Homo sapiens: one gene and its partners. The protein of the gene in region 3 binds, or shares a complex with, the protein of the main gene of each other region. Each region holds a gene or a part of one and is shown on either strand. Other genes may lie near its edges.

The links.
Region 1: SNRPD1 (region 3) and PRPF3 share a complex: the UniProt entries of both Homo sapiens proteins name them as parts of the U4/U6-U5 tri-snRNP complex.
Region 2: SNRPD1 (region 3) and SRRM1 share a complex: the UniProt entries of both Homo sapiens proteins name them as parts of the minor spliceosome.
Region 4: SNRPD1 (region 3) and EFTUD2 share a complex: the UniProt entries of both Homo sapiens proteins name them as parts of the minor spliceosome.

What each region holds. Positions count from the first base shown.
Region 1 is NC_000001.11:150,337,814-150,346,572, forward strand, and holds part of PRPF3 (U4/U6 small nuclear ribonucleoprotein Prp3), read left to right. Parts: intron 1-346; coding exon 347-513; intron 514-2,584; coding exon 2,585-2,664; intron 2,665-4,216; coding exon of another isoform or gene 4,217-4,230; exon of another isoform or gene 4,231-4,339; intron 4,340-5,495; coding exon 5,496-5,639; intron 5,640-6,348; coding exon 6,349-6,448; intron 6,449-6,562; exon of another isoform or gene 6,563-6,620; coding exon 6,621-6,734; intron 6,735-8,204; coding exon 8,205-8,323; intron 8,324-8,594; coding exon 8,595-8,678; exon of another isoform or gene 8,679-8,688; intron 8,689-8,759. UniProt on the Homo sapiens protein: Plays a role in pre-mRNA splicing as component of the U4/U6-U5 tri-snRNP complex that is involved in spliceosome assembly, and as component of the precatalytic spliceosome (spliceosome B complex).
Region 2 is NC_000001.11:24,645,614-24,654,372, forward strand, and holds part of SRRM1 (serine/arginine repetitive matrix protein 1), read left to right. Parts: intron 1-370; coding exon 371-460; intron 461-1,053; coding exon 1,054-1,176; exon of another isoform or gene 1,177-3,245; coding exon 3,246-3,416; intron 3,417-4,357; coding exon 4,358-4,473; intron 4,474-5,795; coding exon 5,796-5,999; intron 6,000-6,820; coding exon 6,821-7,015; intron 7,016-7,299; coding exon 7,300-7,419; intron 7,420-8,692; coding exon of another isoform or gene 8,693-8,730; intron 8,731-8,759. UniProt on the Homo sapiens protein: Part of pre- and post-splicing multiprotein mRNP complexes. As a component of the minor spliceosome, involved in the splicing of U12-type introns in pre-mRNAs. Involved in numerous pre-mRNA processing events.
Region 3 is NC_000018.10:21,628,585-21,635,050, reverse strand, and holds the end of SNRPD1 (small nuclear ribonucleoprotein Sm D1), read right to left. Parts: intron 5,990-6,466; coding exon 5,913-5,989; 3' UTR 1,531-5,912; downstream 1-1,530. UniProt on the Homo sapiens protein: Plays a role in pre-mRNA splicing as a core component of the spliceosomal U1, U2, U4 and U5 small nuclear ribonucleoproteins (snRNPs), the building blocks of the spliceosome.
Region 4 is NC_000017.11:44,860,814-44,868,445, reverse strand, and holds part of EFTUD2 (116 kDa U5 small nuclear ribonucleoprotein component), read left to right. Parts: intron 1-95; coding exon 96-159; intron 160-548; coding exon 549-639; intron 640-3,380; coding exon 3,381-3,516; intron 3,517-4,663; coding exon 4,664-4,791; intron 4,792-5,539; coding exon 5,540-5,733; intron 5,734-7,632. UniProt on the Homo sapiens protein: Required for pre-mRNA splicing as component of the spliceosome, including pre-catalytic, catalytic and post-catalytic spliceosomal complexes. Component of the U5 snRNP and the U4/U6-U5 tri-snRNP complex, a building block of the spliceosome.

The DNA of each region.
Region 1 (8,759 bases), on a different chromosome or scaffold from region 3:
CCTGTAATCCCATCACTTTGGGAGGCCGAGGCGGGCAGATCACCTGAGGTCGGGAGTTTGAGACCAGGCTGAGCAACGTGGAGAAACCCCATCTCTACTAAAAATACAAAATTAGCTGAGGGTGGTGGCACATGCCTGTAATCCCAGCTACTGAGGAGGCTTAGGCAGGAGAATCGCTTAAACCTGGAAGGTAGAGGTTGCTGTTAGCCAAGACCATGCCATTGCACTCCAGCCTGGGCAAGAAGAACGAAACTCCGTCTCAAAAAAAAAAAAAAATTGAGATTCTACACATTCTGTTTTCTATGACTCCAATTTATCTTTCTGTCTTGGATTATCTTGTTTTTAGGCTCAACTGGAGAAGCTACAGGCAGAGATTTCACAAGCAGCTCGAAAAACAGGCATCCATACTTCGACTAGGCTTGCCCTCATTGCTCCTAAGAAGGAGCTAAAGGAAGGAGATATTCCTGAAATTGAGTGGTGGGACTCTTACATAATCCCCAATGGCTTTGATCTGTGAGTTTGTTTTAGTACCTTTTTAAAAAAACAGTTTTTAATCAGCTGAGTTTAAGACTCAAGTTAATACCTTTTAGTAAAGCTATGGTTTTAGTGGGAAGGATGGTACTCATTCATTAATTAAAATTTTTAAATCCAAGAGAGATAAGTAACTGTACACAAGGTCCTGTTATTTTTTTTTTTTTTTTTTTTGAGAGGGAGTCTCGCTCTGTCACCCAGGCTGGAGTGCAGTGGCACGATCTCAGCTCACTGCAACCTCCACCTCCCGGGTTCAAGAGATTCTCCTTGAATTCTCCTTGAATCTCAGCCCCTCAAGTAGCTGGGACTACAGGTGTGTGCCACCATGCCCATCTGCTTTTTGTATTTTTGATAGAGACAGGGTTTTGCCATGTTGGCCAGGCTGGTCTCGAACTCCTGACCTCAGGTGATCCGCCCACCTTAGCCTCCCAAAGTGCTGGGATTACAGGCGTGAGCCACTGCACCTGGCCAAGCTCCTGCATTTGTAAGTGATGTATCATATATATAGGCTGTTTTTAGCTTTTGGGGTTAATGTAGGATAACCAGGGACACAATCTACAAAAGCAAAGTCTAGAATTCTTTTTGCTCTGTTACACATTGTTGCCTGTTTTTAGCATTATTTTCCTTAATTACATTCTTTTGCTACGTATTATAGGTGTTTACATTTCCTAAAGATCTCATTGTGATAGAGCAAGGATTATTAGTTGGTAGGTGAGATAATAGTAAATATAGCATATAAGGCTGGGCTCGGTGGCTGACACCTGTTATTCCAGCACTTTGGGAGGCTGAGGGCTGAAGGATTGCTTGAGCCCAGGAGTTAAAGACCAGCTTGGGCAATATGGTGAGACCTCGTTTCTACAAAGATTAAAAAAAAAAAAAAAGTAGCTGGGCATGGTGGCTTGTGCCTGTAGTCCTGGCTACCCAGGAGGCTGATGTGAGAGAATCACTTGAGCCCAGGAGGGTCTGTGCTGCAGTCAGCTATGATCATGACCACTGCACTCTATCCTGGACAACAGGGTGAAACTCTGTCTCAAAAAAAAAAAGGATATAAGACACATTTGAAGAGCTTTAAATATATCTGCTCCATCCATTTTTTTTTTTTTTTTCCTGAGACGGAGTTTCGCTCTTGTTGCCCAGGCTGGAGTGCAGTGGAGCAATCTTGGTTCACCACAGCCTCCGCCTCCTGGGTTCAAGTGATTCTCCTGCCTCAGCCTCCCAAGTAGCTGAGATTATAGGCATGCACCACCACGCCTGGCTAATTTTTGGTGTTTTTAGTAGAGACGAGGTTTCTCCATGTTGGTCAGGCTGGTCCCAAATTCCCGACCTCAGGTGATCCACCCGCCTCAGCCTCCCAAAGGGCTGGGATTACAGGCATGAGCCACCACGCCTGGCGTTTTTTTTTTTTTTTTTTTTTTTTAAGACAGAGTCTCACTCTGTTGCACAATCTCGGCTCGCTGCAACCTCTGTCTCCTGGGTTGAAGCAGTTCTTCTAGCTCAGCCTCATAAGTATCCGGGACTACAGGCAAATACCACCACACCTGGCCAGTTTTTATATTTTTAGTAGACAAGAGTTTCACTATTTGGCCAAACTGGTCTCAAACTCCTGACCTCAGGTGATCCACCTGCCTTCATCTCCCAAAGTGCTGGGATTATAGGCATAAGCCACATCACCTGGCCCTGCTCCATCATTCTGATACATGGCTTTAGTAGATTTTGTCTTAGCCTTTCGTTGCCCCTTCTTTGTCAGCCACTGTTCCAGGGACTTATTGTCACTAATGAGAGAACATAGCGTCTGTCAGCTGTGGCATGGTAGAAAAAAGGTTGAGAATGATTGCTGTGGAGAGTGTGTTCAACCATAGAGGGACTCAGTTTTCTCATCATGAAAATTATGTGTAATTTAACTATATATTTTAGGTACCTAAATGCTATTTTAGGTATATCAAGCACAAGAACCCATTATAGAGAGTGGGTTTTTTCATTGTATTTCTGAGACTCCTCTCTTAGAATCATCTCTACCCGCATATCGTGTTTTCTTTTCTTCCTACAATTTTAGTACAGAGGAAAATCCCAAGAGAGAAGATTATTTTGGAATCACAAATCTTGTTGAACATCCAGCCCAGCTCAATCCTCCAGGTAATGTATAGATTCCTGAATCAAGTCTCTAGAGCAGCATTACCCATTGGAAATTTATACAGTGAGGAACATGTTCTGTATCTATGCTGTTCAATACAATAGCCACTACCCATGTGTAATTCTTTTTTTTAATTCAGTTTTTTTCCTGACAATAGTTTGTTGTTTGACCAGTGAACATACATTTTAAGTGCATATTCCTGTGCTTAGAATTTCATGAGACAGCCAAGCATGGTGGCTCATGCCTCTAATCCAAACACTTTCGGAGGCCAAGGCAGGAGGATTGCTTGAGGCCAAGAATTCAAGACCAGTCTGGGCAACACAGTGAGACCCATCTCAAGGAAAAAAAATTTGGCTGGGTATGGTGGCTTATGCCTGTAATCACTGCACTTTGGGAGGCTGAGGTGGGCAGATTGCTTGAGCTCAGGAGTTCGAGATCTAGGCAACATGGCAAAACCCCATCTCTACAAAAAATAAAAAATCAGCCGGGCATGGTGGTGTGCATCTGTAGTCCCAGCCTCTTGGGAGGCTGAGGTGTGGAGGATGGCTTGAGCCTGGGAGGTGGAAGTTGCAGTGAGCTGAGATGGTGCTGCTGCACTCCAGCCTGGATGATACTGCCAGACCTTGTCTCAAAAAAAAAAAAAAAAAAAAAAGAAGAAAGAAAGAAAGAAAAAAACCCAAAATTTCATGAAGCTTTACATTTACAGTTCCCTGGTTGTTCCTAGGAAAGAGCCCTCAGCTTGCTCCTTTTATAGAACCACATGTTGTTGTGGCATCCACAGCTAAATGCAAATGCAAGAGCCAAACTCTTGGGTTGGTGTGTTATTAGATGCGATATGCTCCACTACCCACTGTGAGGGATGCTAATTCCAAAGGGCTTTTTGTTAGTTTCCCAAAGTTGAAACTGGGAAACAAAGTTGCTTCTATTTTTTTTTTTTTTTTTTTTTTGAGGAGGAGTTTCGCTCTTGTGGTCCAGGCTGCAGTGCAACGGCATGATCTCAGCTCACCACAACCTCTGCCTCCTGGGTTCAAGCAATTCTCCTGCCTCAGCCTCCTGAGTAGCTGGGATTACAGGCATGTGCCACCACGCCCAGCTAATTTTGTATTTTTAGTAGAGACAGGGTTTCACCATGTTTGGTCAGGCTGGTCTTGAACTCCTGACCTCAGGTGATCTGCCAGCCTTGGCCTCCCAAAGTGCTGGGATTATAGGTGTGAGCCACCGCGCCCGGCCTTTTTTTTTTTTTTGAGTTGGAGTTTCGCTTTTGTCACCCAGGCTGGAGTGCAATGGCACTATCTCCGTTCACTGCAACTTTCACCCCCCTGGGTTGAAGCTATTCTCCGGCCTTAGCCTCCGGAGTAGCTTGGATTATAGGTGCCTGCCACCACACCTGGCTAGTTTTTGAACTTTTAGTAGAGACAGGGTTTTGCCATGTTGGTCATGCTTGTCTTGAACTCCTGACCTCAAGTGATCTGCCCACCTAGGCTTCCCAAAGTGCTGGGTTTACCGGCGTGAGCCACCGCACCTGGCCCTAATTTTGTTTTCTACATTTGCCAGGTATCATTGAATGAGGGGGTTTAACAGCTTAAAGGAAAACAACTAAGAACACTACTTAAGAAAGATAAGAGGCCAGGCGAGGTGGCTCATGCCTGTAATCCCAGCACTTTGGGAGGCCGAGGCGGGCAGATCACGAGGTCAAGAAATCAACACCATCCTGGCTAACAAGGTGAAACCCCGTCTCTACTAAAAATACAAAAATTAGCCAGACGTGGTGGCGGGTGCCTGTAGTCCCAGCTACTCAGGAGGCTGAGGCAGGAGAATGGTGTGAACCCAGGAGGCAGAGCTTGCAGTGAGCTGAGATTGCGCCACTGCACTCCAGCCTGGGCAGCAGAGCGAGACTCCGTCTCAACAAAAGGAAAGATAAGAATGTTTTTTAAAAACATAGCCATATTGCCGGGCACCAGGCCTGAACTGATTTTAATCTTACTGATCCCTTATTAACGAGTTTTCTTCATTTTCTATTTAAAGTTTATACACACACACACACACACACATGTTTTTTGAAATGGAGTCTCGCTGTGTTGCCAGGCTAGAGTGCAGTGGCAAGTGGCACAATCTCGGCTCACTGCAACCTCCACCTCCCGGATTCAAGTGATTCTCCTGCCTCAGCCTCCCGAGTAGCTGGGACTACAGGTGCGTGCCACCACGCCCAGCTAATTTTTGTATTTTTAGTGGAGTCAGGGTTTCACCATGTTGGCCAGGCTGGTCTCGATCTCTTGACCTCGTGATCTGCCCACCCGTGCCTCCCAAAGTGCTGGGATTACAGGTGTGATCCACCGCACCTGGCCTCAATATATTTTTTACATAAAATGTTTATAATAGAGTTGGGTCTCACTTGGTTGTCCAGGCTGGTCTCGAACTCTTGGGCTCACGCCATCCTCCCACCTTGGCCTATCAAAGTGCTAGAATTACAGGCATAAGCCACTGTGTCCAGCCTAAAGTTTCTTTTAATGATATTGATATTTACCTAGGTTTCTTTAATATTTTTATTGCTGTCCGGGCCTGGTGGCTCATGCCTGGCCAACATGGTGAAACCCCATCTCTACTAAAAATACAAACATTAGCCAGGCATGGTGGCGTGTGCCTGTAATCCTAGCTACTCGGGAGGCTGAGGCAGGAGAATTACTTGAACCCAGGAGGCAGAGGCTACAGTGAGCTGAGATCGTGCCATTGCACTCCAACCTGGGTGACAGAGTGAGAGAGAGAAAAAAAAAAAATATATATATATATATATGTATTCTTACTGCTTTGGTATACTAATATCTCTGCCTGACAGTTGACAATGACACACCAGTTACTCTGGGAGTATATCTTACCAAGAAGGAACAGAAAAAACTTCGGAGACAAACAAGGAGGGAAGCACAGAAGGAACTACAAGAAAAAGTCAGGCTGGGCCTGATGCCTCCTCCAGAACCCAAAGGTGCATTTCTCAGTGGCCTCTTCTGTTAAAAAGAGTGGCAAGTTTATGTCTTTAATCCTGGAGGAACTTTAACATCTCTGTGTTTGAGTGATTTCTGTTTCTAAGAATTATTCTTGGGGTCCTTTTTCTCCAAGTTTTCTACCATCTTTTCATATTAAGATAGGTCAACACATTCATTATAGAGGCCATTTATGGCTTATTTTTAAGCATACTGATCATACAACACTCTGGTTTTCCTGGAAGAATACAGGTCTTGAAATTCATGGAGATAGTAGTTGCAGTATTTGCGTAGACTTTTTATGTACATAATTCTTAATGTTTTAATTTTTACAATGAAAGTACAGGATAAAAAACTTGACCCTGTAGTTACATTCTCGTTCAGCAGTATTTTGACTGAGCACTATTATTTATAAGCTCTTTCACTAGATGCTGTGATCAGTGTGAAAAATATGAAAGGAATTAAGTTCCACGTCCTTCATAAATTTTCAGATAATGTAAATGCATACCAATCTTCAACTTAATTGTGTGAACTTCTGCAAATGCTGAAGTGATTGGATGGGATTTTCAAGATAGGAGTTATTGGAGGAAGTGAGTTTAGAGCAGAGATTTGAAATAGGTAAATAATATGAATTGGTATGGAAGAAATAACAAGTTACTCCAGCTGGAGAAGTGACTTCAAAGACTGATTGTTGTCCTCTCTTCACTGCAGTGAGAATTTCTAATTTGATGCGAGTATTAGGAACAGAAGCTGTTCAAGACCCCACGAAGGTAGAAGCCCACGTCAGAGCTCAGATGGCAAAAAGACAGAAGTAAGTGCCATGGGATTGGGTGGAAACCTCGGGCAAGTACCTTTCCCAAACTCTTCTGGGGGGTCCATATTTGGAGGGAGGGGAGAGTTCTCCGTTGCTCTCTCTTTCCCTCAGCCCTGCCTCTGATCTTCAATGCCTTTCTCACTTGTGGATGTCCTTCCTGTCACGACAGAGCGCATGAAGAGGCCAACGCTGCCCGAAAACTCACAGCAGAACAGAGAAAGGTCAAGAAAATTAAAAAGCTTAAAGAAGACATTTCACAGGGGGTACACATATCTGTATATAGGTAGGTGTCCATACTGGGCCAAACTTCCCCTTAGAATTACTAAAACATTTTCCAAGTGCTTGAGGCAGAATCATTGTGGCCTAAAAGCATACCTAACACCAGTTCCTACTCTCTTTTAATGACCCTAGTGTGGATCAAGAGCTAGTAAATCTTGTAAAATAGCGAGAGTTAATGACTTATGTTTATGGTTACCCAGTTCTTCCCTCTCAAGTCTTCTTTTTTTTTTTACCAGAATATTAGTTCTGAACAAGTCAATATACTTGTTCAGGCCAAGATGTGAACTAAAGATTGTATGTCCTTTGAGAACTATAAAATATCATCCTATTTCTTTTTTTTTTCATCTTTTTTTTTTTAAATGGTCTGAGTTTGCTTCCAACATCCATGGAAGCATTACAAATTTTCTTTCCTCCGTAGTCATATCCTTACCCTGATGTATTGCTGTGTTTCATCCTCACTCCAAAATGCATTTTATATGTTGTAAATATTTTTCTACCTTTGTGTTGATTTAATGTTTTTATTCTTTTATGTTGAGTACATGTGTATCTTCTATTTTTAAAATGTGCTTATTTCTATTAACTAGTTCTTTATTATAAAAGTGGTACATTATCACAAAAATAGTGAATGCTTATTAAGATTTAAAAAATTGTCTGACAACACAGAAGAATACTTACTCAAAATGTCTCCTTTCTATTCTCTGATCCCTTAGAACCACTCTCTTTAGGTAATTGCTATTAACAGTTTTTCACATATCCTCCTAGAAAATTTTCATGCCTATATAGTGATCCTATATATATATTTTATTTATTTATTTATTTATTTTGAGACGGAGTTTCAGTCTTGTTGCCCAGGCAGGAGTGCAATGGCGCGATCTCAGCGCACTGCAACCTCTGCCTCCCAAGTTCAAGCAATTCTCCTGCCTCAGCCTCCTGAGTAGCTAGGATTACAGGCACGCACCCCCACGCCCGGCTAATTTTTGTATTTTTAGTAGAGATGGGGTTTCACCATGTTGGCCAGGCTGGTCTTAAACTCCTGACCTCGTGATCTGCCCACTTTGGCCTCCCAAAGTGCTGGGATTACAGGCATGAGCCACCGCACCCAGCCAAGTAATCCTATATTATAAGAGTCTAAGGGTCTAGAGGACAAAAAGTCTGTAGGTCTTTACATTGTCAAGAACAATGAGATTGTAAGTATTTTTGGATGATAGTAAATACCTCTCCCTGACTCTTAGAGTAAACTTTGGTTAGTAATGTAATGGTTAATGTAAAGTGCTAGACTTTGAAGAAATGTAAGAGTGTGGAAATATTTCTAGACTCATCAACTCTACCTTTTAAGCATTCATCTATTTGTTTACTCCAGAGGCCTTTGTTTATAGAGAGGAAACCATTTTGGATTCATCTTTTTACTTGCCACTCCATTCAGGCAGCTGCTGATGCTAAAATGGAAGACATAACTAAACTTTCCCTTCTCCAGAGTTCGAAATTTGAGCAACCCAGCCAAGAAGTTCAAGATTGAAGCCAATGCTGGGCAACTGTACCTGACAGGGGTGGTGGTACTGCACAAGGATGTCAACGTGGTAGTAGTGGAAGGGGGTGAGTCTGAAAAACTTGAGGGAGACTGTCCCCAGACAACCCTAGGCTTAGAGTGATTAGCATTGTGGGGAGAAAGGAGAAAAAGATCGTATTTTAGTGCCATACCTGATATAATATGCTAGGTCTCTGCTTCTGTGTTTTTTGGAGTAGAAGGCCCTAAGATGTGGTTCCTGAGATTGCTTCAACTACCACATTAATGTCTGAGCTCAGAGGTTCTTTCTACCCCATCATCTTCCACAGTTCTGGCAAAATTATTCTTCTCTGTTTCCAGGCCCCAAGGCCCAGAAGAAATTTAAGCGTCTTATGCTGCATCGGATAAAGTGGGATGAACAGACATCTAACACAAAGGGAGATGGTGAATGGGGGTTAGAGGGGATTAAGGGGGAGAGCTATGGGAGGTGGGGATGGTGCATCTGTCCGTTCATCTTATTTCCTC
Region 2 (8,759 bases), on a different chromosome or scaffold from region 3:
GAATGAAATTTCAAATACTTCAATGTGTTCTCATTTAAACAGAAAAGCCCTACGTATCTATTAGCATAGGAAAAGGTGTGAAAGGATACAAATCAAATCTAACATTGGATATGAGGAGGTGTTGGCTTTATGCTGTATACTGTTGTTTTAGGTTTGACTTATGATGAACATATACTTGATAATTTAAAAATCCAGTCAAGTTTTCCAAGTATCAGCTACATTGGGGAAGGAGTATGCATTTCTCATCTATGAAAACTAGTTTGGTATTGTGTTTACTTGGTTACCCTATTTTGGCTATAAAGGTCGTAGGTGATAAAAAGTAAGGATTTAACTTTGAACCCTTAGTTAAGATGTGGTTCTCTTCCTGCAGGGAACAAGTGCAGAACAGGATAATCGGTTCAGCAACAAACAGAAGAAACTACTGAAGCAGCTGAAATTTGCAGAATGCCTAGAAAAAAAGGTATTCTTCTGGATGAGACTGTTGTGCATCTTTATAGCACACTTACTTGACTCAAGTTCTGGGGTTGTTTTGGAGATGCATTGTAACTTGAATGCTAAGAAAAACATAATTGAACATTAACCACCTTTTAGCCACCACACGTGGCACAGCCATATAAGAATTAGCAGATTGTGGCTGGGCGAGGTGGCTCACGCCTGTAATCCCAGCACTTTGGGAGGCCGAGGCGGGCAAATCACAATGTCAGGAGATTGAGACCATCCTGGCTAACACGGTGAAACCCTGTCTCTACTAAAAATACAAAAAATTAGCCGGGCGTGGTGGCGGGTGCCTGTAATCCCAGCTAATTGGGAGGCTGAGGCAGGAGAATGGCACGAACCTGGGAGGCGGAGCTTGCAGTGAGCTGAGCACCACTGCACTCCAGCCTGGGCAAGAGTGCAAGACTCTGTCTCAAAAAAAAAAAAAAAAAATTAGCAGATTCTACTATGCCAAACAAAAAAACTAAGCTAAAAGGAACTTTGGTAGACAGAACTCTAACTTGAGCATTTTTTTTTAGGATTGTGAAGTTGTACTTAATTGTTTCTATGTTTCATCAGGTGGACATGAGCAAAGTAAATTTGGAGGTTATAAAGCCTTGGATAACAAAAAGAGTAACGGAAATCCTTGGGTTTGAAGATGATGTTGTGATTGAGTTTATATTCAACCAGCTGGAAGTGAAGGTACTAATATACAAATGGCTCTTGTTTCTGAATATGTGATATAATTTGTGAATCTTTGGAAACTGAATTTTTTCTATGGAGTGCAAATATAGAAGGGTTATTTTACAATGTTTGTTGTGAAAAGAATTCACTTTGTAAACAACTATTAAGGCTGGAAGTTTAGTGAAGGTGCATAGTTTTGAAAGCTACACAGGTGAAAAATCAAACTTATTGTTTGTAATTTTGCTGTTACATGTTAAGTTACTTTGACAGCAATTTTCTAATGATAATGTGATTTATGATTTAAAAGGCCTGAACCAAAATGGAAGTTATTCCTTGCGTCTGAAGTATAGCACCATCACCTTATTAGGTCACAGCAGAGTGAGTGTCCCAATGTCGCTCTGACCCAACTCCCTTGATGATGCAGTGTGTGTTTGGAGGTGAGTTGTGTAAAGTGGCCAAACATCAACAACAACAACAAAAAACACAAACAGGAAAGAGCAATTGGGTAAAGCTGTACACTGCTCTTTTAAAATACTATTATGAGATGGACATTTATGTGAAGCATGAGGGGCAATTCTGATTTGATTGGATATTGTTTTTAAAGGAACTAAGGTCTTTGTAGCTGCATGTCAGCTAGTCATCAGTTACATTTTAGAGACAGGATTTTTGTTTATACTTAAACTTCAGACAAATTGGCAGCATATAATTGTTCCTTTATACATGAGATAATATGATGATATAACTGATGTTTAAGAACATTCTTATTGTAAGACAGTTTCTGTTTTGCCACAGCAACCCAAAGGACAGTTAAGATATGTACCATATGACCTTTTTGCATATATACCAATGTGAATTTACTTTTACATTAATCATTTCCCCCAAAGAGTTCACCCTATGTTTTGACAGAACAGTTGGCATTTCAACTGATAAGGTATTTCTAGTTTTAAAATAATTTGGTGTTTGTATTTTGTTTTGAATATTTTTAAAGACTAATTTTAAGAATGCACTTTCTATAAAGTATATGCATCTTAGAAAACCAGGAACAGGGGAGAAAGTTTTTTAAATGATGATTGAAGATAGATTTTATTGGAGAAATGCTTTACTGATGTGTATTTTAGTGCATTTTAAAAACCTAAGTATCTGGTAGTATTCCCCTTGTAGTGAGCATGAGATTAAAGTTTAGAACTTTTTAAGACAATTCTTTTTTTGTGGTTGTGTACTCATTATTGCTTGTTCGTCTTTTGCAATTTAGATAAATGATATAACATTAAACTCAAGGTGGTTGAGTTGCAGTAGGGAGTCGGAAGCAAGCCAAGGGAACATCTTTCTCTACAGGGGACTTGGCGATTCCAAACCCCCAAGGTTCCAAGAAGAAACTGAAGACACCTGGAATCTGTACTTGCTTTGTGCTATTGAGCTGTGCTTGTTATACAGACCTTGTTGCTTGACCAACGGATTTAGCATTTAAAAACCCAATTATTTTTGAGAAATCTTGACCTCTTAGCACTTTGTGGACAGTTGAGAATTTGAGGCATTGTTATAATAGATTTTCCTTATATAAAACTCAGGCCTTTAGCTTAGCCCTCAGAAGTTACAGACTGCATGCATAACTTGTTAGTTTTCATAACTGGACAATAGATATTTTATGCAAAGCTATCTGTAGTGTTAGGGAGCAGTTTATGTACTTTTTCCGTTTCTCATTGGGGGAAAATTTCCAGGCAAGCAAATACTTTTCTTGTTAGTAAATACTAGAATTTGTGGATGTTTCATGATGGTTTTTAAAGTTAATAAATGTAAGGCCCACTAACAGCCACAGAGTCTAAAAATACTTACGAAATCCACAAAGGATTAACAGGCTGCTCTGATGCTTTTGGTAGAGTGAGAGAGAATTTGGTAATCTGTTAGAGATTATATTGCTGAGAAGCTACTAGGGAAGACTATTTGTAAAATAGTAAGGACTATATATATGTCTAAGCCCCTATGGTAGACTTAAAAAATACTAATTTAAATGAGTTTTAGGTTGGTTGATTTGTTGGTTGGTTGGTTTTGAAGTAACCTGTTTTTCTTCCTGTCGTGTCTTTTTGCAGAATCCAGACTCCAAAATGATGCAAATCAACCTGACTGGATTTTTGAATGGAAAAAATGCTCGAGAATTTATGGGAGAACTGTGGCCCCTGCTGCTAAGTGCACAAGAAAACATCGCGGGAATCCCTTCTGCTTTCCTAGAACTGAAGAAAGAAGAAATAAAACAAAGACAGGTAATAACCTTTTCTTTTCTGTAATGTCGATTTGAGAGTATTGGCCAGGCTGCCGAGACACCTTAGGTAGTATATGACTCAGCTAGGATCTTCATGTAGTTTTGCTTTGCTGTACTGTATTTAAACATTCAGTTTTGGTTCACTGCTCCTCCCTCCAACCAAACATTGAGTTTAGAATGTCATTTTCCCAGTCTAGTGATTTGCTAGATTTTTACAAATTCTTAATATGTGAGTGCATGTAGCTTAAAAGAAATTTGAATTTAACACTGAAAGGTAAGCATAAGGATTTTTGGTTTGTTGTTTTTTTGAGACACAGTTTCAGTCTGTCACCCAGGCTAGAGTGCAGTGGTGTGGTCTCTGCTCACTGCAGCTTTCACCTCCTGAGTTCAAGCGATTCTCATGCCTCAGTCTCCTGAGTAGCTGGGATTACAGGCGCACACCACCACATCCAACTCATTTTTGTATTTTTAGTACAGACGGGATTTTGCCATGTTGGCCAGACTTGTCTCGAACTCCTGACCTCAAGTGATCTGCCCGCCCTTGGCGGGATTATAGACGTGAGCCACCGTGCCCAGCCAGCATAAACTCTTAATATGGGCAATACAGATGAACTCCCAGAAAGAATAAGGTCAATGTGAAAGTGATTTTCTTTTTTATTTTATTTTTTATTTTTATTTTTATTTTTTTGAAGTAAGCTTGAAAACATCTCTTTAGTTCAGGTCTTAGAGATTAACTTTCAGTGAATATTTATTTGTAAATGAGTGGCGATAATACCAGTCTTAATGCGTATCTGTAGTGTAGGTGAAGAAAGAACAGGTCTGGTTCAAAAGAAGAGGCCGATGAAATGATAATAGCATTGGTGTTTAACACACGTAGAAAGTAGTCTTCAGTTTGTTCTCAAATGTTCAACTATGTGTATTTTGAAAACCTGGTCTTTGCAGATTGAACAAGAAAAACTGGCATCTATGAAAAAGCAAGATGAAGACAAAGATAAAAGAGATAAGGAAGAAAAAGAAAGCAGCAGAGAAAAAAGGGAGCGGTCTCGTAGCCCAAGAAGGTATCATACAATAGATGCATAACTGATGTTTTACAGGTACTTTAGGTCTTAAGAAACTTCCTTAGTTAAAAAGGAATCTAACAGCGCTATTCAAGGAATTTGTTCCATCATGCAGTTTTCATGGTGACCTGTGCCTTGCCTCTGGACTAAAGAAATCTGTCATATTTTGTTTGAGACAGATAATTTAGCCATGAGTGTCTCGCAGATGTTCATAAATTATCCAACTCTAAATTCCTAAATCAAAACTTTAAACTTTTTCTTCCATATTGCTTTAGTTCATAACAGTTAATTTGGGTTTTTAAAAATGTACTCTGACTCACTTTTTCTTTCCATTTCCTTTCTTCTAAAAAGAAATCTGTACTCGAAATCTGTACTCATTAGCCGTTCATGTAATACTTACCTAATTCCCTGTTCTGCTTTTCTTAGATGGTTGTACTGAACCCAAACTTCAGATCATTTATTTGTTTTCTTCTTCCAGTGAGACTATTGTTAGGTTCACATTTTTAAATCCACGGCTCAGCTTCTATATTTGTGGTGAAAGGTGAGAACTCCATTAGGCTTTTTATTTTTAGGGTTCTGCTTATTTCTTTCATAAATGTCTGCTGGAATTAGTAAAGAGAAGAGGTAATTTCTTTGTCCCTTTCATTTATATATTTGATACTAAAATCTCCTTATGGAAGTAATATTTATAGAGCTAAGCACAAATTGTCATGGTGGTAACTACTTGACTATTGATGAAGTATGTCTGCCATTTTCCTTCTGTGTGAATAAGAGAAAAACCCTTCGAGTTAGGCAGGCTACTGTTAAGAAAGAGGGCTTCTCCTCTCGCAAAAAAGCTATCTTCTGGATGTTTGATGTATATTTCTCTTTTCTGAAGAACATGTTGCTTTAATGGTATTAGTCATTTTTCTGGCATACTGAGGCTCTTCCTGATGAACTCCATTGTAATCTGTCCGCATCTAAATGTTTTATGTTTGGGAGTTTGATTTGTTGTCAAGGATTATCATTGTTTGCTTTAAAGCATCCTCTTTGCCTCTGAAAAGTTGGTCTTTTGATCTCTGGGAATGATTAAGAACCTAAGTCTAGAGTCCCAAGTTAGTGCTTTTCTCCCTTATAACTGATATACTCGAGAATGTTATCTTTCATTTGCTTGTCTTTCTCTTCCCTGTCAAGTAGATTAGGTTAGCATGTCTTATTTCCATAGGGAAACATCTCAGATATAAACAGTAGTGTAACTAAAGATTAATCCTCACTTCTCCCTTTGACTCCTCTCTTCCAATCCATGTTATTTAAAAACCTGAAAAAAATTACTTTCATCCTAGACGCAAATCCAGATCTCCTTCCCCTAGAAGACGATCTTCCCCTGTCAGGAGAGAGAGAAAGCGCAGTCATTCTCGATCTCCCCGTCACAGAACCAAGAGCCGGAGTCCTTCCCCTGCTCCAGAAAAGAAGGAAAAAACTCCAGAGCTCCCAGAACCTTCAGTGAAAGTAAAAGAACCTTCAGTACAAGAGGCTACTTCTACTAGGCAAGTATATAAAAATTCATTTATAAATAATCACAATTTTAGATTAATAGTGACTGCAAATATGACATCTGAGTTAAAATAAAACTACTTATTTTCCTTTTAGATTTTTTAAATTATAAAATTAGTTTGTTGAAAAGAAATTGTTTAGGAGAGTATATTAGAAGAAAATGCCCCAGAGGGTGACCATTACTATCTTTTGGTTGTATTGTTTCAGGTATTTTATATATTGTAACTTGCTTTTTTTCCTCAACGTATTGTGGACAACTTCGCACTTTTAAGAAATGTATGTGGTTGCCAGATGCGGGGGTGCATGCCTGTAATCTCGGCACTTGGGGAGGCTGAGGTGGGTGGATCGCTTGAGCTCACAAGTTAGAGAGCAGCCTGGGGCAACATGGTGAAACTCCATCTGTACTAAAAATATATATATATATATATATATATATATATATATGTACACACACACACACAAATTAGCCGGGCATGGTTGGCACATGCCTATAGTCCCAGCTACTCAGGAGGATCACTTGAGCCTGGGAGGTTGAAGCTGCAGTGAGCCAAAATCATGCCAGTACACTCCAGCCTGAGTGACAAGAGTGAGACCCTGTCTCAGAAGAAGAAAAGAAAATGTACATGGTTGGAATTATTAGTTGCTCTCTGGGTTTCAGTGATAGGTACATACATACTTATGTGTCTTTTGGAGATAGAGACAAGTCTGTGAATTTTGAAAAGTTTTAGAAATACTTTATTACATCATTGTGTAATGATTTAGAAGGCTGAGTACAAGAAGGCAAAAAAAAAAAAAAAAGCTTTTGTTTCCACAGTGACATTCTGAAAGTTCCCAAACCTGAACCTATACCAGAGCCTAAAGAACCTTCTCCGGAAAAAAATTCCAAAAAAGAAAAGGAGAAGGAGAAGACCCGACCACGATCTCGGTCACGCTCCAAATCAAGATCCCGGACGCGGTCCCGCTCTCCTTCTCACACTCGACCTAGACGGCGCCATAGATCCCGATCAAGGTGAGTTGTGGCTTTAAGATCAACAAAGATCTTAGGTTTTATATACTACTCTACTGGGTACAATTAGATAAATAATTTCAAAGTGGTAGAAGATGTTTAGTACAAATATTTTTTGAATGTACACAGAGAATTTGAGGACACTTTTCTGTGTACCATAAAAATCTACATAAATGGAAAATTTTGATCTTTGAAATTTATTTTTTAGATGTGGCCATTGAGAAAACTAAGCCAAGAAATTCCTCACTCCTGGTTTATTCAGGACCTAATTCTCTTTGTTATGGCAGATCGTATTCACCTAGAAGGCGGCCAAGCCCAAGAAGGCGGCCATCTCCTCGAAGAAGAACTCCGCCAAGAAGAATGCCTCCTCCACCAAGGCATAGAAGGAGTAGATCTCCAGTAAGACGGTAAGATTTTTTAAATTTGGAAGTGTCAAGTGTTTGACACTTCTGGATAATCTTTCTTTTAGGATAATCTGTAAATTAGTGTCCCCTGGAAGAAAGAACTGATAGGTGATATTAGACAATGTCTTCTAAAGAGTCTGTTTCATTTGAAGTGTAATGCAGTTGTTCGTGTTATGAAAAGTGTCTAGTCTGGTGTTGGAAAGTAAACGAGAAATTCATCTTATTGATACTTTTCTGTTAACTTTTACCCTTCTAGACTTCACCAAGAAATCATACTAAGTAAGAGAATTGGCCACCTTCTCTTTGGCTTTTAACTGGCTTCTGAAAAGTAGCTGATTATAGGGCCAGTAAGCTCCTTTTACCAGTATTAAAGTAATTCATTTGCTGTTATACTTTGAGAAAAGTATTTTTATGAATTTTTTATAAAATTCTCAGAAAATTCTCATTATAGAAGTAATGAAGCTTATAAGTAATTCAGACAGAAATAGCATAACTTGGAAGTTTTCCATAATCCGTGGGGGAATATATCTATATTCCATAGATATAATTGCTATTACTAGTTTAGTGTCTGGTTATTTTTCAAAACCCCAACTGTACCAGTGTTCTTTTTTTTACATCATTCTAAAATGAGCATAAGATAAAATATTTGAATCTTGGATATATCACTTTAAACAAAAATTAGTGGCTAAGTCTACCCAAAGTAGAGTCCTAGTGCACTGGTAGCAGTTTTTGTGCCTTCTTGCAATACGTTTCACCTGGCTTGGGAAGAAATGCCGATGATTAAGCTTCCAGTTATTTTGGACAGAATTTTTTGTTTGAGTCTTTTAAAGTTCTTTTCAGGGAACCAAATCAATTTGGAAATAAAGAGGGGAAAAATCAAGTAAGCTCTGTAAAGTTACTTTGTTTCTGCAGTCAGGTTTTTCAGAGTCCCATATTTTGAAAATTTTCTTTGGGGAGGGGTTGTTAAGATATATTGAACTATTACTACTGTTGCAAAGAATTGATGTGTTGTGCTCATAGAGGAAATTAGTGAGGTAAATGGTCAGTCAATTTTCAGGCATCACACTTTTCTAATTCCCTTTTAGGAGAAAAGTAATGCTGGTGCTTCCTAGTACAAGATTAGTGGAAACAGCTATTTCTTATACTGGAGTTTTGCAAACAGCATGTTTAAATTGTGCTTACTCAGCCATTTAGCAGTCAATATTTTACAGATTGTTTAAGATTCCCTTTCAGCCAGTTTTTATCTCACACTTAAGGTAGGGTTTCTTTTTTTCAGGTTCTCAGGAATTCTTCCGCCAAAGGTGAATTCTGCAGGTACACATAATTGCAACAGAACTTAACAC
Region 3 (6,466 bases):
GAGTGAAGGAGGGCAACTGGGGAATACATCCTAGGAGGTAGGAAAAGCACAGAGCCCGTGCATCCTCCAGACACCAGTGGCTTATTGTGGCCCTTGGGCAAATAAGTTCCACCTCTGTCAGCTTCAGTTTGCTCAACTTGAAAACAGAAGGCAAGGACTAGATGGTCTGTAATGTCTTTCAGCTATAATGATACAGGATTCTTAAGGACAAACACAGAGAACTTGGGAAGGTGAGGATGTTACAGGAAGAGGAAAGACAAGCACAAAGCCACAGAAGTAGGAAAACACTAGTTGTGCATAGGCAGCGTGTGTTGTGGGATGGCAAAGACCCTAAACAAGCCTGTTTAACTGTTCTTTTTTTTTTTGAGACATTTAAAATGGCCCCCAGGTTTAGTGCTGTCGTGTTCCTAAATTCAAGAAGGCTATGATGTGCCTTTTTGAGAAAATAAGTGTTAGATAAGCTTTGTTCATGGATGAGTTAGTGCTGCTAGCCATGAATTAACAAATCAGTAGTATATATGTATTACATATACTACTATATATGTCTCTAAACAGAAACACTCATAAAACAAGGTTATGTATTGGTTGGTTGATGAAAATGTGACTAGAGGCTTGCAGGAACTTAACCCTATATTTTCCCTAGAAGTAGTGGTTTAGTATTAACAGCAACTTTACACAACTACTGAAAATTCCAAGAATTGACTGCACTGGGTATCTACAGCCTTGCTATTATTACTATTTTCTTCATAAACTGAATCTCACTGTATATTAACATTTCTCAAAATATATGGAATACGTAAACAAAACCCTAAAACTTCACTGAGAAGAAAAGCTGGTTCAGATAGAGAACACTACTATGTTCCCACACAGAAAGAACTTAGTATTACAAAGTTTATCAGCCGGGTGTGGTGGCTCACGCCTGTAATCCCAGCACTTTGGGAGGCTGAGGCAGACGGATCACGAGGTCAGGAGATCGAGACCATCCTGGCTAACACGGTGAAACCCCGTCTCTACTAAAACTACAAAAAATTAGCCAGGCGTGGTGGTGGGTGCCTGTAGTCCCAGCTACTCGGGAGGCTGAGGCAGGAGAATGGCATGAACCCGGGAGGTGGAGCTTGCAGTGGACTGAGATTGCACCACTACACTCCAGCCTGGGTGACAGAGCAAGACTACGTCTCAAAAAAAAAAAATTTATCTTCCTTTTCAAAAGTACTCCTATTGGCTGGGCGCAGTGGCTCACACCTGTAATCTCAGCACTTTGGAAGCCTGAGGCAGGCAGATCGCTTGAGGTCTGGCATTAGAGACCAGCCTGGCCAAAATGGTGAAACCCTGTCTCTACTAAAAATACAAAGATTAGCTGGGTGTGGTGGTGCATGCCTGTAATCCCAGCTACTCGGGAGGCTGAGGCACGAGAATTGCTTGAACCCGGGACACAGAGGTTGCAGTGAGCCAAGATCGCACCACTGTACTCCAGCCTTGATGAAGGAGTGAGACTGTCTCAAAAAAAAAGAAAAGAAAAAAAAACGAAAAGAAAGTACTCCTCTTTATTTCACAGATCCACAAGAATTTCACATTAATAAAGGCCAGTATCAGATATACTTTTAATGCCTTTAGAAAATGTCTGCTGTTGGTTTATTATGACAGAGATTCTTCTTGTTATGGAGTTATTTTCTAGGTTAAGTCTTCAGGAACAAGAACTGTATGTTATTAAATGTTATATGTATGATATCTATTATAGGTAATACATGAATTGTTTGCTGACTACATTAATCTATTTCAAAATACTAAGTTATGCTCACATAATTATGATAGATTAAAAGAAACTGATATTTCATTTTCTATTCCTTCACTTTGGGTTTTCTATCTATATTCATAATACATTTCTTTAAAAACTAATGTTCGGCCGGACGCGGTGGCTCACGCCTGTAATCCCAGCACTTTGGGAGGCCGAGGCGGGCGAATCACGAGGTCAGGAGATTCAGACCATCCTGGCTAACACAGTGAAACCCCGTCTCTACTAAAAGTACAAAACATTAGCCGGGCATAGTGGTGGGCACCTGTAGTCTCAGCTACTCAGGAGGCTGAGGCAGGAGAATGGCGTGAACCCGGGAGGCAGAGTTTGCAGTGAGCCGAGATTGCACCACTGCACTCCAGCCTGGGTGACAGAGCTAGACTCTGTCTCAAAAAAAAAAAAAGAAAAGAAAAGAAAAGAAAAGAAAAGAAAAAAAACTAAAGTTCATATGTAACATCTCATTAAATATCAGATGTGTACAAAATGCTGCAGTCCTAAGATCCCATCTGCCTTTTAGGGGGTGGTGAAGAGGGGTCAAGAGAAGCATGTTAAACTCTAGTCTGTTTTCTATTCATACTATAATGCTTCCTTTATAGCAAATGATGGTAATCAGTTCAAATAGCTTTTTCTTCACCCAATTTTAGCCCTTTCACATGGAAATGAAATAATGACCTCTAGTGGAATAAACTCAATCTAGTACCCACTGTGATTTATTATTACATTTAAACTGTTACTAGACTGGCTTCACACTGCAAACATCCTAGACACAAAAACTCTCAAAACAAATTTTTTTTTTTTTTTTGAAACAGTCTCGCTCTGTCACTCAGGCTGAAGTGCAGTGGTGTGATCTCAGCTCACTGCAACCTCTGCCTCCAGGGTTCAAGTGATTCTCCTGCCTAAGCCTCCTGAGTAACTGAGATTACAGGCACCCGCCACCACACCAAGCTAATTTTTGTATTTTCAGTAGACAGGGTTTCACCATGTTACCCAGGCTGGTCTCGAACTCCTGACCTCAAGTGATTCGCCCATCTCGGCCTCCCAAAGTGCTGAGGTCACAGGCATGAGCCACCATGCCAGGACAAAACGTAATTTTAGATCTCTTATGCTAAGTGGCCATTTTCATTTAAATTTTAAATTTAAGAGCCAGGTCTCACTAGGTTACCCAGGCTGCTTGCAATCATAGCACGCTACAGCTTCAAATTCCCAGGCTATAGCGATCCTCTTGCCTTAGCCTCCCCAGTAGCAGGGACTACAAGTGTGCACCACGGCACTAAGCTCCAATTTTTATTTGTTATCTGCTTCTGTCTATAAGCTCCACGAGGACAGGAGCCAACTGTTTATTTCCTACTCTTGCAGGGTTTTGTTTGACCCCTTCAACAAATCTCTCCACTTGCTGCATTACAGGGGTCTCTTGCCTTTTGCCTTCTACTTGGATACAAGCAATAGGAGCACCAACAGGTCAGAAGATGGAAAAGAATGAAATCCAGTTATTTATTCCCCCAGCTTATTAATTAATGAAAGGTATAGGCCGGGGACGCACGGTGGCTCACGCCTGTAATCCCAGCACATTGGGAGGCCTCGTGCAGATCATGAGGTCAGGAGAACGAGACCATCCTAACACAGTGAAACCCCGTCTCTACTAAAAAGACAAAAAATTAGCTGGGTGTGGTGGCAGGCACCTGTAGTCCCAGCTACTCGGGAGGCTGAGGCAGGAGAATGGCCTGAACCCGGGAGGCAGAGCTTGCAGTGAGCCAAGATCGCGCCACTGTACTCCAGCCTGGGCAACAGAGCAAGACTGTCTCCAGAAAAAAAAAAAAAAAAAAAAAAAAAACGTGTGGAGAAAAATTACATATTGGTTGTATCTTGTCAAGCCAACTCACCTTTAATATATTTACTATTAAAGAATTGTCTTAAGTCTGGCCAACATGGTGAAACCCCGTCTCTACTAAAAATACAAAAAAATTAGCTGGGTGTGGTGGCGCACGCTTATAATCCCAGCTACTCTGGAGGCTGAGGCACAATAATCTCTTGAACCCGGGACGCAGAGGTTGCAGTGAGCCAAGATCGCACCACTGCACTCCAGCCTGGGTGACACAGCAAGACTCTGTCTCAAAAGAAAGAAAGAAAAAATTGTCTTAATCATCATGAATTTCATACATCCCTTTTTGGATCATAGAACCTGTAATACAACTGGGTGACCACTGCCAATAATTTGTGGGGGAAAAAACGCTAATTACTATATAACTTCAATGACTTACAAAAAAAAATTATCAACTGTGGAAAAATCAAAAAGCATTTGAATTTACTTGATGAGGTAAGATACTTAAAAAAATATATATCTAGTATTTATTTATACCAATATATACATTTATATATCTAATATATATGACAGGTACATTCTACATGTATACTAATATATCTATTAGTATATATTTATATATTAGTATAAATACATATATATATAAATACATATATATATCTCTCTCTCGATTTTTTTTTGAGACGTAGTCTCACTCCATCGCCCAGGCTGGAGTGCAGTGGCACAATCTCGGCTCACTGCAACCTCCGCCTCCTGGGTTCAAGCAATTCTCCTGCCTCGGCCTCATGAGTAGCTGGGATTACAGGCGCCTGTCACTGCACCTGGCTAACTTTTGTATTTTTAGTAGAAATGGGGTTTCACCCTCTTGGCCAAGCTGGTCTTCAACTCCTGACCTCGTGATCCACCTGCCTCGGCCTCCCAAAGTGCTGGGATTACAGGCGTGAGCCACCACACCCAGGCTAAACTTTTTTAAGGTAACGATCTTTGCAGAAAATTTCTTTACTTAAAAAAAAAAAAACTCACATACATGATGAAAATACAGATTTAAGCCACCCACATCCTCAGTTGTTTTCCTTAGCATATAAATACTTCGTAGTAAGCTTTACAAAGAACTGATGCACTGAGAGACATTTTTTCTGAGCTTAGCAAATCAAAAACAATTTTTAAAAGTCCTTATTAACAATTAGAACAGTTTTGCTGTCAAATAAAGTAGGTCTTTTCTCTTTTATTCTCAAAGAACCCCTTAATAAAGGAGGCACTGACAGGTACATTACACATTAATAGGAGATTTTAACACTGCTCATAACTGATAATCTAGTGACCATTAACTCCAAGTTATAACTTGGAAAACATAAAACTATATCCTATTAAGAACTGATTAAAAAGCAAAAGAAACAAAAGTAAGACATTAGCAGCTAGACAACAAAGCAATGACCCTTAATTTAGAAGACAACTTTTTACCAGGTACCTAAGACTCCGTGGAGTAAAACTCAGGAAAGGAGAATCAATTCTAGACCCCATCCCATAAGGACTTTAGTTTCCGAAATACCAAAACAAACTTCTTACTTCCCCTGTGGGTAGGTGCCACAGAATGAAGAGTAAAGCAATAAAATGCATATTCAGTGCATGTGAAGTAGAAGGGTATATATCCTATATATATTGTTAAGTTTAGCCTAAAGTCTCTTTACATATCTCAAGTTCAGCTTAAAGGTTTCTCAGTACATAGAACTGTAGCCTAACTGGACGTGTAAACAGACGGTACCCTACTCTTGTGGCAATCACTAAGTTTCAGCCAACCAAAGACAGCGAACTGTTCAAACCATATTCAAATAAGGCAAACGCTGAACTGTAACTAATCCGGCTGTTGCTGTATCTCACTTCCATTTTCCATACATCACTTTCCTTCTGTCCATAAATCTTCAACTATGCAGCTGGGCTGAAGCCTCTGAGCCTATTATGGTTCAGGGGCTACCTGATTTGTGAATTGTCCTTTGCTCAATTAAACTCTGCCAAATTTAATTTGTCTAAGGCTTTTATTTTAACCTTATTCATCATAAAAAGAAAAAGAAAAATTTTAGTTCAAAAACTTAAAACCTGATCAACTAAAAATGAAACTGCCCAGTAGAAATGCTTAGCTCTCACTGTGGTAATTTCGTGAATGTGGAGGAAACTACTAAAACTTTGATATACTAAATAGACAGCTCTGTCCCACATTTATGTTTATTAAAAACTGACATAAACAAACACAACCTGTACAAAAAATATCCCAAATCTCATATGACTTTGAAATCTTGAGAGACATTATCGCCTAGGACCCCCTCTTCCTCTGCCACGGCCACGTCCTCTTCCTCTTCCTCTTCCTCTGCCTCTTCCTGCAACTGAAGGAAAAGAAAAACAAACCAAGTTCAATTCTCTCCTGCACCAATGTTACCTAGACACCACAAACAACATTTACACACACACCTTTCCCTGTTTATAGCTCTTTATTAGTAGCTACAGTAAATAAAGTTTAACTAGCTTCTGTTAAATGTGTTAGACTTCAGATTCCCTCCACCCCCCAACACATTATCATGCAGAACCAATAACTAAAGGCCTAGGGAGATTATTATTTGTTTCATTTCAATTTATTTACTAAGAAATGTGTCAAATTTAAAAATACTTTTTCTTTATATCATGTCTCAAATTCACCATAAAATGATTTGAACCTCACAAAAAAAGGGAAGATATATATCACAGAATAAAACATGATCACCTTGATGCCAGAGTTTTGGTAACTGAATAAAATCCAAGCAAGTTAATTCAAAACCAGGAAAGTTTAAATGTATTACATCAAATCACAATCTTATTAACTCTTC
Region 4 (7,632 bases), on a different chromosome or scaffold from region 3:
AGAAGTTCTCAGCTATGAACCACCTGTGGCACCTGAAACAGAATTTTGAACGACACTTTGCTAGGTAGATTATAATTGTGTGGCTTCTCCCATAGGTGACATTAATTACCAAGAATTTGCTAAAAGACTCTGGGGTGACATCTACTTCAACCCTAAGACGTAAGTAGAGTATGGGACGTGACTTTCCAGAGGGGTGATCATTTACCCAGTAAGTGAGGACAGTGAAATTCTCTGAGTTCAAAGATTAAATACCTACTTTTTTTTTTTTTTTTAATGTAAACTACCGTCTTTCCTCCCCTAAATGGGTTGGCTTCCTAAGCTCTGATCTGGTGAGAAGCTGTTTCTCCTGAAGTCTTTACAGCCCAGCTCAGGCATCCAGGAGGGTCATAACCATGTATCCTTCCAGGAATCTGTCTCTGGAAACTTTACAGTCACACACACATTCCTCCCCTGGGCTGTTGTTCAGATTCAGCACTTAGACAATGCCTCTTGGGATCAGTGATAGTGCCTTTTCCCCTGGGTCACTCAGAACTTATTTTTCCTTTTAGGCGAAAGTTCACCAAAAAGGCCCCAACTAGCAGCTCCCAGAGAAGTTTCGTGGAGTTTATCTTGGAGCCTCTTTATAAGATCCTCGCCCAGGTGAGTGTGTCAGGTCACACTGGGCAGATCTGCTCTTATAAGCACAGTGTGGAAGAGCTGGTGAACTCACACTTCCCTCTGTCCCTAAACCTGCTCAGTTTTATGTCAAGTATAAGGGTGGTTGTTGGTCACTAATTGTTCCAGAAGTAATCTTCTGGATCCAGAACACTACATTACTCTAAGTGTTATTAAAATCAAAGGAAAGGGGCCCGGGCATGGTGGCTCATGCCTGTAATCCTAGCACTTTGGGAGGCCGAGGTGGGCAGATTGCCTGAGCTCAGGAGCTTGAGACCAGCCTAGGCAACACGATGAAACCCCGTCTCCACCAAAATACAAAAAATTAGCTGGGCATGGTGGCGGGCGCCTGTAGTCCCAGCTACTCGGGAGGCTAAGGCAAGAGAATTGCTTGAACTCAGGAGGCAGAGGTTGCAGTGAGCCGAGATTGCACCACTGCACTCCAGCCTGGGCGACAGAGCGAGACTCTGTCACCAAAAAAAAAAAAAAAAAAATCAAAGGAAAGGGAAAAGGTATGAAAGAAAAGACTTCTCCTAGAGCAGGTTTATGAACAGATCTTGACTATTGAGAAGAATGTGACACTTAGAACTAATCATTTCAGTTACGGAAATTTAACTTACAGATATAATTGTGAAAGTCCTCCTGCTTATTCATATAAGTCAAAGTGTTTATTATAGCATTTTTAGAGATAGGGTCCCACTCTGTCGCCCAGGTGGGAGTGCAATAGCACGATCATAGCTCACTGCAGCTTCAAACTCCTAGGTTTGAGCAATCCTCCCACCTCAGCCTCCTGAGAAGCTGGGACTGCAGGTGCAAGCTACCATGCCTGGCTAACTTTTAAAAAATTTTGTGTAGAGACAGGGTCTTGCCATTATCCCCAAGCTGGTCTCAAACTTGTAGCCTCAAGTGATCCTCCTGCCTTGGCCTCCCAAAGTGCTGGGCTTACAGGCAGGAGTCCACCACCTCAGCTTATAGCATTGTTTGTAACATCAGGAAAAGGGAAAAAACTGGAAATAAGTTAAATGTTTGTCAGTTATGCTCATTAATCTGATTAAATGAGTGATGGTACATCCCATAAAATGAACCGCTTTGCAACCACTTAAAGTATGTCTGAGCTGGGCACAGTGGCTCAGGCCTGTAATCCAGACGCTTTGGGAGGCCAAGGCGGGAGGATCACTTGAGTCCAGGAGTTCAAGACCAGCCTGGGCAACATGGCAAGACCCCATTTCTACTAAAAATACAAAAATTAGCCAGGCGTGGTGGCTCATGCTTGTAATCCCAGCTACTCTTGAGGCAGAGGCTGCAGTGAGCTGAGATTGTGCCACTGCACTCCAGCCTGGGTGACAGAGCAAGACTCCGTCTCAAAAAAAATAAAATAAATCAACTGGGACTGGTGGTGTGCACTTGTGGTCCCAGCTACTCAGGAGGCTGAGGCCAGAGGATTGCTTGAACCCTGGTGGTCAAAGCTGCAGTGATCCATGATCACACACCACTGCATTCCAGCCTGAGTGATGGAGTGAGACCCTGTCTCAGAAAAAAACAAAACAAAGCATGTTCGTATGAACTTTGCTTTCTTAACTGTTTGCACAATATGTGATGCTTGTCAGATTGAAATCATTTGTCAGGAGATGGTAAGGATTTAATTAAGCATGTGGAATGCTGAGAAGCAAAGAATATAACGTGGCCGGATGTGGTTGCTCACGCCTGTAATTCCAGCACTTTGGGAGGTCCCAGTGGGCAGATCGCTTGAGATCAGGAGTTCAAGACCAGCTTGGACAACATGGCTAAACCCTTTATCTCCGCACAAAATAGAATTAGCTGTTGTAGTGGTGTGTGCCTGTGGTCCCAACTACTTGGGGGGCTGAGGCAGGAGGATCACTTGAGCCCAGGAGGTGGAGGTTGCAGTGAGCCGTGATCACACCACTGCACTCCAGGCTGGGTGACAGAGTGAGACCCTGTCTCTAAAAAAGGGAATATAGCATGACGTTTATATGAATTTGTACTCCCTAAAAGATGGGACTAAAAGGGTAAAAATTATAGGAATTTTCATACAGACCTTTCTCCCAAGGCAGTAATAAAATATGCAGGTATTTAATAAGCACAGTGGACACACACATACACAAAATGTGTGTGGCCATTCCGGTGGACAAAACAGCAAAACCTAGCAACAAGATAAAATAGCAATTAAAATTTATTAGTGCTGAAAAATACTTAGTATCTTATGTCAGACTGGAATGGATTAATAAAAAAAATTTATAGAGCCTGCCTCAGTAGAGACCTTGAGTCTACTGAGGGTGATTTAGCTTGGCCCTGCCCTGACAGGATCCACAGCAAGGTGACCTTTTTTGGTTCCTTCCAGTGCACAATGATCCTCTAAATCTGAGAAGTCTGTAAATAGACTTCTGTTTAATAGGTGAGGGAGTTTCTGAGTGGGAGGAGATGCTGCTTTTCAGACACCAGGGGGCAGCACTGGGAGTAATCAATCTGAGTGCTTGGTTTATTGGCTGGGATGGGGATGTAACCAAGTTGGCTTTGCCTGTGGTTTGAAGGGTAGGTAGCAGAGATGCCGCTGAAACCAAACTTTTGTCCTTGCCAAGAGCTTTGTCTCCATAGAAGAGAGCCTTGTGAAGGAGTTCTTCAGATATTTCTTTGGACTTCCCTTGTCTCCCTCTAGCACCATGCTCAGGCTCTCACTACAGCTGACATGGTGTCTTACACCCTCACAGGTTGTAGGTGACGTGGACACCAGCCTCCCACGGACCCTAGACGAGCTTGGCATCCACCTGACGAAGGAGGAGCTGAAGCTGAACATCCGCCCCTTGCTCAGGCTGGTCTGCAAAAAGTTCTTTGGCGAGTTCACAGGTAATAATGTGCTCGTGGCCCCTTAACTCTGTCATCCTCGTGCCCTGCCACAGGTATCACAGCAATTTTTTCTCACCCAGCGATGGAGGTCAGAAATCTGAGGATCTTTTCAACAAACCACAGATTCAGATGCAGAACACTGGTGTTTTTCCTAGCTGCTTTCCTTAGTGGATGATGGCACACATTCTATCTTGGGAACCAAAAGGAATTACATTTTCCTGCCAGGAGGAGTGTTCAAGTAAATGAGATGGGGAGGCAGGCTCTGTGGTTCTGGTATATTTTCCAGGGGGCAGCCGGGAAGGTGGATGCTTGGGTAGTGTGAAATAGTGCAAAAAGCACTAGGCTAGGACTTGGGAGACTTGGTTAGTTACACAGAAGGCACGTGATACAGCAGAAAGACACTGGACTGGTTGAAAAAACCACCTGAGTCTGTCTCGATCCTGCCCTGGCCATTCCATGAGATGACCCTGGGCCAGCCACCTAATTCTTCATGACTCTGATTTGTTATCTGTAAAATCAGGGAAGTGGAAAGGGTGATGGCTGAGGGTCTTCTCAGCAGTCTCTGATTCTAAGTCCGGTGGGAATTAGGTGTCTGGGCCCCCAAGGTGCGTAGTTTTAATAGCTTATTTTGGTCTGCCCATCAATCTGACACACCAGATACCATTGAAGGCACACAGGCCTATCCCAGTGTGCTCATGGGGGTTCCCTCTTATGTGGTTTATTAATGTGTTCAGAAAACGGGGTAACTTATTGAATAGAGATGCATGCAGTGTTTCTCAAGGGGAGTCAGGTTGGGAATTGTTTTAAGTAGATGTTAGATGGGGTGCTTATTTTGTTCCACGTAAATGCGTATAGCCAATAAAAGTTCATAGATCGATGTACTTTAAACTTTTTGTCAGCTGAGTTCCAAGGAACCATGTACCACTGATACCTGCTGCTTGCTCTTTTCTGGCATCAGGGTGACTCCAAATCTTCTAGCAGCACATTCCCAGGAAGCAGGCTATCACTATCTATAGTGCCAGAGCTTTTAGAGCTAACAATCAGTCCCCGCACTTTGAGCTTTTTGACCATTGTGAATGGCTCAGTAACTCCTGCTCGTGCTCCCTGGGAAGGCATGTATTAATGGCTTTCTCTTCTCCATCCACAGGCTTTGTGGACATGTGTGTGCAGCATATCCCTTCTCCAAAGGTGGGCGCCAAGCCCAAGATTGAGCACACCTACACCGGTGGTGTGGACTCCGACCTCGGCGAGGCTATGAGTGACTGTGACCCTGATGTAAGGGCATGTGGCTCCCCGGTTCTCTGGTCTTTTTTTCCCCTTCCTGTGTGGGGATACTGATTTCTGGTCACAGGAGTAATGCCCACTTTCCCACCCTTGCCTCCCCATCCCCATGAGCACAGTCAGGCCTGAATGCAAAGCCTGATGTTGCCACCGCTAGTGCTATGACCTTGGGAACATTACTCACATTTCCTGAGCCTCAAGGCCTTGGTCTATAACACGAGCATAATAAAATGTGAGCGGTTGTTATGAGATTTAAATAAGATTAAGGAAGTGTTACGGTTGTGTTCAGCATGTTGCCTGGCAGATACTAAAGATTCAACAAATGGTAGCTAATCTTGTCAGTCCTGGCTTTTAAAAACATCTTTCCCAGCCATTTCTTAGGCTGTCTAGTTTCTTATCATAAATACACAGCCAGTTGAGAATTGAGTTACATCTTAAGAGGAAATTTGGGACAGTAAGTAATCTTGCCAATAGTGCCTCTCTGCTATCTTAAATCTGTGTCTCTTCCTCAATGCCCTTATCCTCCCAAAAAAAAAAAAAGAGGAGAATATTTTTGCTCTGCCATGTCTCCTATTCATCCTTCTCAGAGGGATGGGGTAGAACATGGTTTGGAGATGAGACTACCTCATCTTTCTCTAGCTCCTCATAGAGCTCATGTCCTTGCTGTCAAGGAAGATGGCGGGGAGTAGTACTTCCCCGGAGCATAGATGTGGTTGAAGCTGCACCCTGTCCCCTCTTCCAGGGCCCCCTGATGTGCCACACTACTAAGATGTACAGCACAGATGATGGAGTCCAGTTTCACGCCTTTGGCCGGGTGCTGAGTGGCACCATTCATGCTGGGCAGCCTGTGAAGGTACTGGGGGAGAACTACACCCTGGAGGATGAGGAAGACTCCCAGATATGCACCGTGGGCCGCCTTTGGATCTCTGTGGCCAGGTACTGCCAACCAGAGCCCCAGGAGTATGCCTTGGTGTCTATCCAGGGGCTGCCCCCAAGGAGCTGGAAGGAGTGATCCTCCTTGGAAGTAGTTGCAAGGCTCTGTGCAAGAGGGGATAAAGTGGCTCTCCCTCCGCAGGGCTATTGACTTCAAGTTCTTCCTGTCCCAGGTTTGCTGGGGCCAAAGGCAGCTACTGTTGGAACAGTGCCAGAAGCTTCGCCTTTGCACTTTGGGTGGCTCGTGTGAACTTTTTTTTTTAGCCCTATTTGTTTGTTTTGAGACAGGGTCTCACTCTGTCTCCTAGGCCAGAGTGCAGTGGCACAATCTCAGCTCACTGCGACCTCCGCCTCCTGGGCTCAAGCAGTCCTTCCACCTCAGCCTCCTGAGTAGCTGGAACTACAAGCACACACCACTATGTCTGGCTAATTTTTAAATTTTTTGTAGAGACAATGTCTCACTATATTGCCCAGGCTGGTCTCCAACTCCTGGGCTCAAGTGATCCTCCCACCTCAGCCTCTCAAAAGTGTTGGATTACAGGTGTGAGCCACCACACACCATCTTAAAGCCCTTTTGAAAGCATGAAGCTTGTATGAACTTTTGTAGGAGGATTTCCATTGTTACTCATCTTAATCCTCTTTTCATTTCCTCTCCTGTGTTCCTTAAGTCATAATCTTTGTGTTTCTTCCCAAAAGAAATTGTTCCCCAACTCCACTGTCTACTCTTTGACCAAGAGAGAAGGCTTCGCTGGATCCCTTGTAGCATCCCAATCTGCAGTCAAACTTAGCTTGGGCCTCTGGGCTACTTGTCAGTTTATGAATTTGGTTTCCCAGTTGACAAGTTAAACCAAAGCATTCGTGTTCCCTAAGGTGGCTACCCTGCCTCAATGGTGGTCCCTTTTGTTAAATCCACCCTAAATGCCAAAAGGTGGAATATTGAAGAGCTGGGAAAGTGGAAGTTTTCTGTGATGCTTTTTTTTTTGAGATGGAGTCTCACTCTGTCGCCCAACCTGGAGTGCAGTGCCTGTGATCTCGGCTTACTGCAAGCTCCACCTCCTGGGTTCATGCCATTCTGCTGCCTCAGCCTCCCAAGTAGCTGGGACTACAGGCGCCCGCCACCATGCCCAGCTAATTTTTTTGTATTTTTAGTAGAGACAGGTTTCACCGTATTAGCCAGAATGGTCTCGATCTCCTGACCTCATGATCCACCTGCCTCAGCCTCCCAAAGTGCTGGGATTATAGGTGTGAGCCACCGCTCCCAGCCTTTTTTTTTTTTTTTTTTTCTCTCTGTCAGCCAGGCTGGAGTGCAATGGCGTGATTGCGGCTCACTGCAACCTCTGCCTCCCGGGTTCAAGCGATTCTCCTGCCTCAGCCTCCCAAGTAGCCAGGGTTATAGGTGTGCACCACCATGTCTGGCTAATTTTTTGTATTTTTAGTAGAGATAGTTTTCACCATGTTGGCCAGGCTGGTCTCAAACTCCTGACCTCAGGTGATCCAGCCACCCACCTCAGCCTCCCAAAGCACTGGGATTATAAGCGTGAGCCGCCACACCCGGCCTTCTTTGATGCTTTTGCTAGCCCCTTACAGTCGACACCTTGGGCAGCTTTTTACCATGAGCCTGCAATTGGAATAAGATTTTCCTCTTATGTCCTCACAGAAATACCTTGTACTTTTCTTTCATAATGCCCATCAGTTTGTAACCACATACATGTGTGGATAATGATTGTTTACTGTATCTCTCCCCTGCTAGAATGTATCTGTTTTGCTCACCCCTGCTCTTGGCACGCAGCAAGTACTCAGTAAATTTTTGTGGAATAGGCTGGATGTGGTGGCTCACACCTGTAATCCTAGCACTTTGGAAGGCTGAGGCAGGAGGATTGCTTGAGCTCAGGAGTTCAAGAC